2 separate regions of the Homo sapiens genome follow, and region 1 is linked to region 2. Evidence: fine-mapped expression QTL. A gene starts in region 2. The other region holds a variant in brackets. All regions are shown on one strand. Distances are from middle to middle.

Region 1 (5,368 bases), 48 kb after region 2:
GAGGCCAACCTGCACTCCTCCTTAGCGCACCGCTAAGATGTGCTCCAGTGTGGAGAATATGAGCATCATACTGCAGTGAAAAAGAGATCTGGAGACAGGCAGACAGGAGTATGAGGCCAGAGGAGAGGTCTGAGTACTGAGACCTGGGCCCAGGGGAGCCTCCTGCTGCTCACCTGGTTCAGCAATAAACCATTGTTGAAGTCTTCGGTTTGAGTTTTGAGTTCTGGTACGTTCCAGCCCCAAAGTCATGGGAGCCGCCCAGGAAGTGTGTTCACATGGTCATATGTTTTTGTAAAACTTAGAAATTCTGGACATTGTAGCCGGAGCTGGTCAAGCTTGTTATCTCTGCACTGCAACTTCCTCTTCTTGTCATTTCCCCTCCTGTCAGGAGGCCTCACTGTAGCCACAGTATTGTGAATGAATAATTGTGGGGTTGTTTTTTTTTTTTGAGTTAGAGCTTTCCTCTCGTTGCCCAGGCTGGAGTGCAGTGGCTTGATCTCAGCTCACTGCAACCTCCGTCTCCAGGGTTCAAGCGATTCTCCTGCCTCAGCCTCCCGAGTAGCTGGGATTACAGGTGACCGCTACCACACCCAGCTAATTTTTTGTATTTTTAGTAAAGACGGGGTTTCACCACGTTGGCCAGGCTGGTCTCAAATTCCTGACCTCAGGTGATCCACCTTCCTCAGCCTCCCAAAGTGCTGGGATTACAGGCATGAGCCACTGCGCCCGGCCTGTGTATTTTATTTCTTAAAAAGAGCCTCCAGATCACTTGAGTCCAGGAGTTCCAAGGAAGCAGTGAGCTATGATCGCACCTGGGTGACAGAATGAGACCCTGTCTCAAAAAACAAAAACATAAACAACCAAGACAGCCTCCAAAATTGTATAAGCTTCAAGGCCTGGCAAAACCTGAACTTGCTCCTGTCTCCAACGTATTTGGCAAAGGGGTGGGAGAGGGGTGGGCAGGTTGTCCCCATCTTCCCATTTATGGTCCTTAGAGCAGCCAATGCTGCCTGCTCTTTGCTGGGGGGATTTTCCTTTTTTTCTTTTTCTTTTCTTTGAGACAGAATCTTCCTTTGTTGCCCAGGCTGGAGTGCACTGGGACGATCTTGGCTCACTGAAACCTTCGCCTCTCAGGTTCAAACAATTCTCATGTCTCAGCCTCCCTATTAGCTGGGATTACAGGAACCACGCCACCATGCACAACTAATTTTTGTATTTTTGCGTTTTTTTTTTTTTTTTTGGGATGGAGTTTTGCTCTTGTTGCCCAAGCTGGAGTGCAATGGCGTGATCTCGGCTCACTGCAACCTCCACCTCCCAGGTTCAAGGGATTCTCCTGCCGCAGCCTCCCGAGTAGTTGGGATTACAGGCGCGCGGATTACAGGCGCTTACAGGCGCACAACACCACACCCGGCTAGTTTTTGGTATTTTTTAGTAGAAACGGGGTTTCTCCATGTTAGCCAGCTGGTCTTGAACTCCTGACCTCAGGTAATCCGCCGACCTTGGCCTCCCAAAGTGCTGGGATTACAGGTGTGAGCCACCGCGCCCGGCCTAATTTTTGTATTTTTATAGAGATGGGATTTTGCCATGTAGTCCAGGCTGGTCTCAAACTCCTGGCCTCAAGTGATCCACCCACCTTGGCCTCCCAAAGTGCTGGGATTACAGGCACGGCACCAGGCCTGGATTTTGCTTTTCTTTTTCTTTTTTCTGAGATGGAGTCTTGCTCTGTCGCCTAGGCTGGAATGCAGTGGCATGATCTTGGCTCACTGTAACATCTGCCTCCCAGGTTCAAGCGATTCTCCTGCCTCAGCCTCCCGAGTAGCTGGGATTACAGGTGCCCGCCACCATGCCCGGCTAATTTTTGTATTTTTAGTAGAGATGGAGTTTCACCATGTTGGCCAGGCTGGTCTTGAACTCCTGACCTCAGGTGATCCACCTGCCTTGGCCTCCCAAAGTGCTGGAATTTGGCTCACGCCTTTGGCGTGAGCCACAAACCCCGGCCTGCTTTTCTTTTTTAAATTTACATATTATTTATTTATTTTTATTTTATTTTATTTTGAGATGGAGTCTCACTCTGTCACCCAGGCTGGAGTGCAGTGGCGCAATCTCAGATCACTGCAAGCTCTGCCTCCCGGGTTCACGCCATTCTCCTGCCTCAGCCTCCCAAGTAGCTGGGACTACAGCCGCCCGCCACCACGTCCGGCTAATTTTTTTTTTTTTTTTGTATTTTTAATAAGGGGTTTCACTCTGTTAGCCAGGATGGTCTCGATCTCCTGACCTCGTGATCCGCCCGCCTCGGCCTCCCAGAGTGCTGGGATTACAGGC[G/A]TGAGCCACGCGCCCGGCCTAAATTTATATTTTAAACGCACATAGGAAAAAAAAATTAAACAGTACCAAAGAGTACAATGCATACTGACATACCGAGTCACCAATCCACCCCAAATTCCTAGACCCATGTCTCAAAAATGCCACAGACATTTTCTGATGGATCTTTGCAAAAATTTTCTATCTAGATCCTATTTTTTATACAAATACAACTATATGTATACAGCATTCTGTGCTTAATAACCCTTGATGATCTTCCCATATCAGCACATAGTCTGACTTAATTCTTTTTAAAGACTGCAGAGATTGCAGGCGCCAAAATACATCTAACCATTGGGGCAGATTTCATTATGACTATCCTTAACCCACTGTACTTGTCCCGCAAGGTCCAACCTGGTATTGCACAGGACCTCACAGAACGCTGCTGTTTCCTGATCTTTTCTAGTGAGGCAGCTTTGTTTCTTCACATAGGAGACCTCCCTGGAAAGCGAAGTCAAGCAGGTGGATCTAGAGGTTGGCCACCACAGTCAGGAAAGCAGCTGTCTACTGAAAAGCAAACTCTAATTCCTTAACATTAACGAGTACCGGAACTACCACGTGGGAAGTGCAGCCCCCTCTCTCCGCCTCACGGATTCAGCTCGGAGGTGCAGGGGTTTGGTGGGGGGCGGTTAGGGAATGACAGCTGCCCCGTGGAGGACGCCCAGGGCTGGGTCACGAGCTGACAGGAGTCAGCCTTATTCTGTAAATCCTAGTTATCAGGATGCCGGTTTCGCGCCGTGCCCAGTCCCACTCAGCCTTCAGTCTTCCGGCCGGGACCCCGCTGGGCGCTAAGGGGGGAGCGGCGCCACCGCGAGGCCGGAGAGGGGGCTGCGAGGGGCGCCCGGCCGGCCTGCGAACGTGGTGGGAGCCAGGCGGGGCACACGGCCTCCCCTTCCCATGAGGGACTCTCCCCGCCCCCCGGGCTCAGCGCTGGGAGTGGTGAGATGGATGGCGGGGTGATCCGACGCCGCCAGCCCACCGCGTCCCCAAGAGCCGGGGCCTCCGGCTCAGCTAAACGCCCCAGAGTCACGCATGCGCCCCATAAACGTCTGCTGAGTGAACGAAAGCTCCCCATCCACAAGGGGACAGCTCGGCGCTCCCACGCCATGTCCAGGTCGCATTCGACCAGCAGGACTTCCCTTAACGCGCTGCCGGAGTCCCCAAGATCGCGCCCCTGCCAGGAGCGGAACTGTTTATTTCCGTCCGGCTGAAGAGGCGGGGTGGGGATGGCACAAGCCGATTGGTTACGCAAAATGTGGAACCAATTCAGGCCTATGATCCAGGAGACTACAAGTTCCAGAATGCATCCTTCCTCCAGCATAGGGACAGGCCGAGGCTGCGGGGGCGTTGCCTGCTGGGAATTGTAGTCTTCATCTTGTTTGTTGCGCAGGAGGAACTGGAAGGAGGGAGTAAACTATTACCACGTGACGTTCGGGTCAGGTGTTTGGGCCAGCCTCCGCACTCGAGCTTTGATTGGCTGACTCTAATAAGAAGACGCCACTAGGGGCGGGGCGAAGAGGGGCGCAAGCTCATTGCGTTTTGAGTCTCGGGACCCCTGTTGGAGAGACTATGGCGCTCAACAAGAATCACTCGGAGGGCGGCGGAGTGATCGTCAATAACACCGAGAGGTGAAAACACTGCGGAAGGATCCTGGAGGACCAAAGTTCGGGTGTCGAGGAAGTGGGCGGTGGGTGGTGGGTGGTGGGGAATAAGCCCCTGAAGAGGGAGCACTGATGGAGTGAGGTTGGTGGGGAACGGCTGGGGGCGGGGTTGGAGGAAGGTGGGTGGGCCGTGGGGGAGAGCCCGGGAGGTTGTGATCAGCTGGGAGGCGGGGGTGGGACGTCTGCATGGGGACCTGGTATGGGGCCCCCGGTGGGGCCTAGGGGTGATTCTTGAACCCCTTCCCAGACTTGTGATTTCAGTAGCTGGGAGGAGCCCCAAACAAAAATAATTGTCACTTATTGGATGTCTACAACGTTACTACGTGTCAGGCTCTGCGCCTTTTCTACCTTATTTAATAAATTCTGTGCAGTATAATCTACTACTGTCCACATTTCACAGGTAGGGAAAGTGGAGGGCAGAAAGGTTAAGTAACTTGCCCGAGATCGCAACTGTGTAAGTAACAGAGGTGGTAATTCCAGGAAAGGAGTCTTGACTCCAAAGTTAATAGGATTAACCACCAGCATACAGGCTTCCAGTATGTTCCAGAACTGTTCAGGTTCCCGGTAAAAAACTGAGGTCCCAGAGGTGAAATTAAACAGATGACGTTTGTCAGGTGTCTAACAGTTCCTGGCACTGTGTGGGTCCGTAGTCATTCCCTTGCCTCTCTCTTGAATGCCTGTTGGTTTGGGTCACCTCGGAAGGCAGAGCTCTCCTAATTCAAGGTTCTTTCCACTCCATCCTCCCCACCCCTTGCTCATTGCATCCTGTCTCTCCTCCAGTCTCTGCCAAGAGAAGCCTTAAATGGCCTCTGTCTCCTTTTGTTCCTTGGGTATTGAAAATCAGACCAGCCAGCCCTGGGTTGAACTATGCCGACCCTGAATTGCCTCTTGAAGGCAGAAGGAGCTTAGGAGGCACCTGAGTCCCCAAAGGAGACATCGTGGAGTCAGAGCCCTGTACCCAGCTAAGGCCAGCATCCAGCTGCCCTGTGACTTGGGAATGTTTGATGAGTCAGAGGAAAATGCCTAGAGTGACCCAGCATGCTCACTTTCCCTCTATCTTACCCGCTCAGAGTTTCATGGGCCCAGCCTGTTGCTGGTAATTCCTTCTTTTCTCTGAGCAGTACTTCTCTTCTCTTTTTTTTTTTTTTTTTTTTTTTTTTTTAGATGGAGGCTTGCTCTGTCGCCCAGGCTGGAGTGCAGTGGCACGATCTCAGCTCACTGCAACCTCCGCCTCCTGGGTTCAAGCGATTATCCTGCCTCAGCCTCCCCAGTAGTTGGCATTACAGGCACCCGCCACTACACCCAGCTAATTTTTTGTATTTTTAGTAGACATAGGGTTTCACCATGTT
Region 2 (5,321 bases):
CACCTGTAGCTGCTATCAGGAGGCCAAGGTGGGAGGATGGCTTGAGCCCAGGAGTTCAAGACCAGCCTGGGCAACATAGTGAGACCCCCATATATTTTTTTAAAATGGTAGAGCCACTGCTTCTAGTTTCAAGATATTCATCGTTATTTGCTTCAAGTTGGTACACGTGGGAATCCACGTGAAGCCTCTCTCAAACTGTTAATATCCAAGCAAGCGCCAATCAGGGTTCTAGGACAGCAAGAGGACAAGAATGGAGGAATGCACCGCCACCTGGGTGGCCAGCAGCTTCCACGCCAACTGCCAAGGCCCCATACATCTTCATCTGGAGAGGGCTGGGAGGGTCGTGGGGTAGAGCGGGTGGGTTTAGAGGCTGAAGAAAATGATTCAGAAACAAAAGGACAAGGTGGCCGGGTGCAGTGGCTCACACCTGTAATCCCAGCACTTTGGGAGGCCGAGGTGGGTGGGTCACCTGAGGTCAGTAGTTTGAGACCAGCTTGGCCAATATGGTGAAACCAAGTCTCTACTAAAAATACAAAAAATTAGCCAGGCGTGGTGGTGCATGCCTGTAATCCCAGCTACTCGGGAGGCTGAGGCAGGAGAATCACTTGAACCTGGGAGGCGGAAGTTGCAGTGAGTCGAGGTCGTGCCCCTACACTCCAGCCTGGGCGACAGAAACTCCATCTCAAAAAAAAAAAAAAAAAGGACAAGGTAAAACAGCCACGATGTAAACACACAATCCAGTTATGCTCCTGTACTGCATAACTGCAGTATGGAATGTCACAATAAGCAACTCCTTACGAGCAGGACTGGGTGTGACTGCCCCACGTATTCCCCTCCACACTTAGCATGTAGCAGGTGCACACTGCTGGGTGGATTAGAAATGACTGTGAAAGGTTTAGCTGTTTGGCTGCTGTTTATGAAAACCAGTGGAAGGTGTGGCCACTTCCTGCTGGATGGAGAGACCCTCATTCCATTCTCATTCCATCTCAAAGTGATTGTGAGGGTCAAGCTTCTGCTGGTGCCAGAGCCACTGGCCTGGTCACCACCAGCCCTGGCCTGGGATGTCAGAGCAGGCTTCCTGGAGAGACCCCTCTCCTGGGGCTGGGTGGTGGCCAGGCCAAGGTGGGGCAGTGAGGAGGTGAGAGGCAGAAGACACAGCGTATACAAAGGCCCCGTGGCCTGGAGGCAAAGTGCGATGGAAAAGTCTTGCCTTTTAGGGCAGGAGGGCCAGGGCTGGGGCAAAGGAGGGTCCCAGATTCCCCAGGCTACCAAGTTTTGCCATGGTAGAACTGGATCACAAGGGCAAGCCTGAGTCCTGCCAGAAACATTCACATCTGCACTTAACCAGGTCACTTCTGCCTTTGTGTGGATAATGAGAAGTTGGAGATAGTTGAGCTAACACACAAACCACTGCGAGCGCTTTCCAGAGGGTAATCTTTTCATCCTGACAGCTGTCAGGTAAGCACTAGTGTTAACCTGCTTTTTCCCAAATGAGGAAACCACAAGGAAGACAGTAAGGTCACGATCTGGTTTTTTTTTGGGGGGGGGGAGGGGCATTTTGAGACGGTGTCTCACTCTGGCACCGAGGTGGTGGCGCAATCTCGTCTCACTGCAGCTTCTGCCTCCCGGGTTCAAGTTAATTCTTGTGCCATAGCCTCCTGAGTAGCTGGGATTACAGGCGCCTGCCACCACGCCCGGCTAATTTTTGTATCATTAGTAGAGATACAAAAATTTTTGTATCTTTAGGGTTTTGCCATGTTCGTAGGGCTGGTCTCAAACTAATTACCTCAGATGATCCGCCCACCTCGGCCTCCCAAAGTGCTGGGATTACAGGTATGAGCCACCGCGCCCAGCCACAATCTGGGTTTTTATTACTATTATTTTATTATTATTATTATTATTGAAATAGAGTTTTCACTTTTGTCGCCCATGCTGGAGTGCAGTGGCGCGATCTCGGCTCACTGCAGCCTCCGCCTCTGCCTCCCAGGTTCAAGCGAGTCTCCTCCCTCAGCCTCCCGAGTAGCTGGGATTACAGGCGTATGCCACGCCCGGCTAATTTTTGTATTTTGAGTAGAGACGGGTTTTCACCGTGTTGGCCAGGATGGTCTCGATCTCCTGACTTCGTGATCCACCCGCCTTGGCCTCCCAAAGTGCTGGGATTCCCGGCGTGAGCCACCGCGCCCAGCCCTCAATCTGGGTTTTAAACCCAAGCAGAGTCCGGAATCGGAGCTCGCACCCCTTCTCCCAACCAGGCCTGCGTCCCTGGGGAAATCAGGACGCAGCGTCCAGGGGTTGGAGGAGGGCCCCGGCGGCCGACCCCGGTCTGTGCCGCCCCCTGGTGGCCAGCCATGGGCGAGCATATGACTGCTCTCGGCTCCGCCCCGCCGTCCAACGGGCACTTCCGGAGCCGGGCGTCTACAGACCGCGGCCACCTTCCACCTGCGCCCGAGGCAGACGGTGCAGGGGCCTCCGGGACAGGCGTCTGAGGCCTGCTCCGCAGCGCGGGCCCGGGGGCGGGCCTAGGGGCGGGGCCTGCTGTGGTGCGCTCAGGCACCGCGCTGGCCACCTGTGCCCGGGTCCTAGTGGCGGCCGCAGTGTCGCAGGCCGGAGGGAAGATGGCGGCGCCCTGGTGGCGAGCCGCGCTGTGCGAGTGTCGGAGATGGCGGGGCTTCAGCACCTCGGGTGAGGGGTGGGCAGCTCTGCGGGGGGGGGGGGGGGGGCTGTCGCCCGAGCTGTGGGGCGCCGGCCTTACGTCTTCTCTCTGCCCGCAGCCGTCCTGGGCCGCCGGACACCCCCGCTGGGGCCGATGCCCAACAGTGACATCGACTTGAGCAACCTGGAGCGGCTGGAGAAGTACCGGAGCTTCGACCGCTACCGGCGCCGAGCAGAGCAGGAGGCGCAGGCCCCGCACTGGTGGCGGACCTACCGAGAGTATTTCGGGGAGAAGACAGGTGCGGGGCGACTGGAGCAGGGGCTGCAGCCACCGCCCGGGGAACTCGGGACCCGCCGGCGTTTTCCCCGGGCGCTGGGCGAGCCTTGCCGGCGCCCTTGTGGATGCTGGGGACGCTGGGAGGGCCTGCCTGCAGACCTGTGTGCGCTATCGGCAGCTTAATCACCCCAGGATTTTTCACACCTTCTGCACCTCATTCTTGGAAAATTCGCTCCCCCTACTATTAGAGTTCCAGCTCCTAAAATATTTGCTCCTAAAATCTTGACCACCTGACTTTCCGGATTGGGATGCCGTTCTGTGCGCCTCAAATACTCTGTAGGTAACTCTGGCCACACTGCATTCTGACTGTGCGCTGCCTCTCCCCAGATTGTAAGCGCCCTGTTGACAGGGATCCTGCTTGTCTTGCCCTCCATTGGATCCTTGCACCCGAACAGTGCAAGGATGTACATGTGCAATACTTTGCTGAATGAAATTAAAGGCCTGGGCAGGGTGACTCAAAAAAGAACCCAACCTGGCCGGGCGCGGTGGCTCACGCCTGTAATCCCAGCACTTTGGGAGGCCTAGGCGGGCGGATCACCTGAGGTCGGGAGTTCGAGACCAGCCTGACCAACATGGAGAAACCCCGTGTCTGCTAAAAATACAAAATTAACTGGGCGTGGTGTCGCATGCCTGTAATCCCAGCTACTCGGGAGGCCTCTGAGGCAGGAGAATCGCTTGAACCCAGGAGGCAGAGGTTGCGGTGAGCCGAGATCGCGCCATTGCACACCAGCCTGGGCAACAAGAGCGAAACTCCGTCTCAAAAAGAAAAAAAAAAAAAGACCCCAACCTTTAAGGAACTTACAATTTATGGAGTATATGCTTTTCTTTTCTTTTCTTTTCTTTAGCATTTATAGAGGCAGTTTTGTGGTGGTTAAAGGCACAAGCGTGGAATCTAAATAGCCCGATTTAAATCCTAGCTCAGCCTCTCGGATAATGTCCTTGAGCTTGTTTCAACTGTAAAATAAAATAATTGTGTCTTTGCTACAAAATTGCTGTGAGGATTAAAAGAGGCAATTCATTGGCATTTTTGCCTAATGCCATCTCTGATGAGGGCTCAGTATGTTTTCGTTATTATTATTTTGTTTTGTTTTGTTTTAAGGCAGAGGCTCGCTCTGTTGCCCAGGCTGGAGTGCAGTGGTGCGATGACTCACTGCAACCTCTGCCTCCTGGGTTCAAGCGATTTTCCTGCTTCTGCCTCCAAAGTAGCTGACACTACAGGCATGCGCCACCACGCCCAGCTAATTTTTGTATTTTTAGTAGAGATGGGGTTTCACCATATTGCCCAAGCTGGTCTGAAACTCCTGACCTCAAGTGATCCCCCTGCCTCAGCCTCCCAAAGTGTTGGGATTACAGGCGTGAGCCATAGCACCTGGCCGAGAAGCACTTCTATAAGTCCTTCTAGCATCAGTCATTCACTCTACCTAGGACAGCTGGGTGTTCATAGCCACCTGTGAACAGGCTTGGAGGTGATCTCAACTATAATTGGAAGGACCATTGACTTCAGTTTCCCATGACCTAGACAAAACTGTGACCTGGTTTGGGGATCAGAAAAACACAGCCTCCAGCCTAGCCAACATGGTGAAACCCCGTCTCTACTAAAAATACAAAAAAAATTAGTCGGGCATGGTGGCAGGCGCCTGTAATCCCAGCTACTCAGAAGGCTGAGACAGGAGAATTGCTTGAACCCGGGAGGCAGAGGTTGCAGTGTGCCGAGATCGCGCCACTGCACTCCAGCCTGGGCGAGAGAGTGAGATTCTGTCTCAAAGAAAAACACAACCTCAAGTTGTATCTGATTTGCTTCCCAGTTACATCCTATTCAGGTCTGGGAAGTAGACTGCACAGTATGTTTTAATTCTGTGAATCACAGGGAAAGCTTGAGCAGCAGAGCTTGAAGCACAGAATGAGAGGACTAGGTAGGGACAGGCAGTTTAACCAAGAAGATGTGCCCGCCCCCTCACTGGGTGCAGTGGCTTGCGCCTATAATCCCAGCTACTTAGGAGGCTGAGGCAGGAGGATCACTTGAGACCAGGAGTTTTGAGACCAGCCTGAGCAACATAATGAGATCCCATCTCTCAGATTTTTTAAATTAGCTACCATGGCTGGGCGCAGTGGCTCACACTACTGTAATCCCAACACTGTGGGAGGCTGAGGCAGGCAGATCACTTGAGCCCAAGAGTTCATACCAGCCTGGGCAATGTGGCAAAACCCTGTCTCTACAAAAAATACAAAAATTAGCCAGATGAGATGGTGTACACTTGTAGCCCCAGCTACTCAGGAGACTGAGTTGGGGAGGTTAAGGCTGCAGTGAGTCATGACCCTGTTTTTCCCACAC

What was found.
Region 1: its variant is fine-mapped to the expression of MRPL38 in whole blood (TOPMed, PIP above 0.99).

What each region holds. Positions count from the first base shown.
Region 1 is chr17:75,853,857-75,859,224 of GRCh38, reverse strand. It overlaps WBP2 (WW domain binding protein 2), which reads left to right and starts at 3,890. Exons shown (of 8, transcript NM_012478.4): 1 at 3,890-3,986. The coding sequence starts at 3,928. RefSeq lists enhancers at 2,271-3,066, 3,675-3,804 and a silencer at 3,135-3,304. The variant G/A (reference allele first, on the strand shown) is at 2,323.
Region 2 is chr17:75,902,170-75,907,490 of GRCh38, reverse strand. MRPL38 (mitochondrial ribosomal protein L38) reads left to right here and starts at 2,607. Exons shown (of 9, transcript NM_032478.4): 1 at 2,607-2,682; 2 at 2,772-2,951. The coding sequence starts at 2,616. RefSeq lists silencers at 2,202-2,681, 2,692-2,741, 2,762-2,811.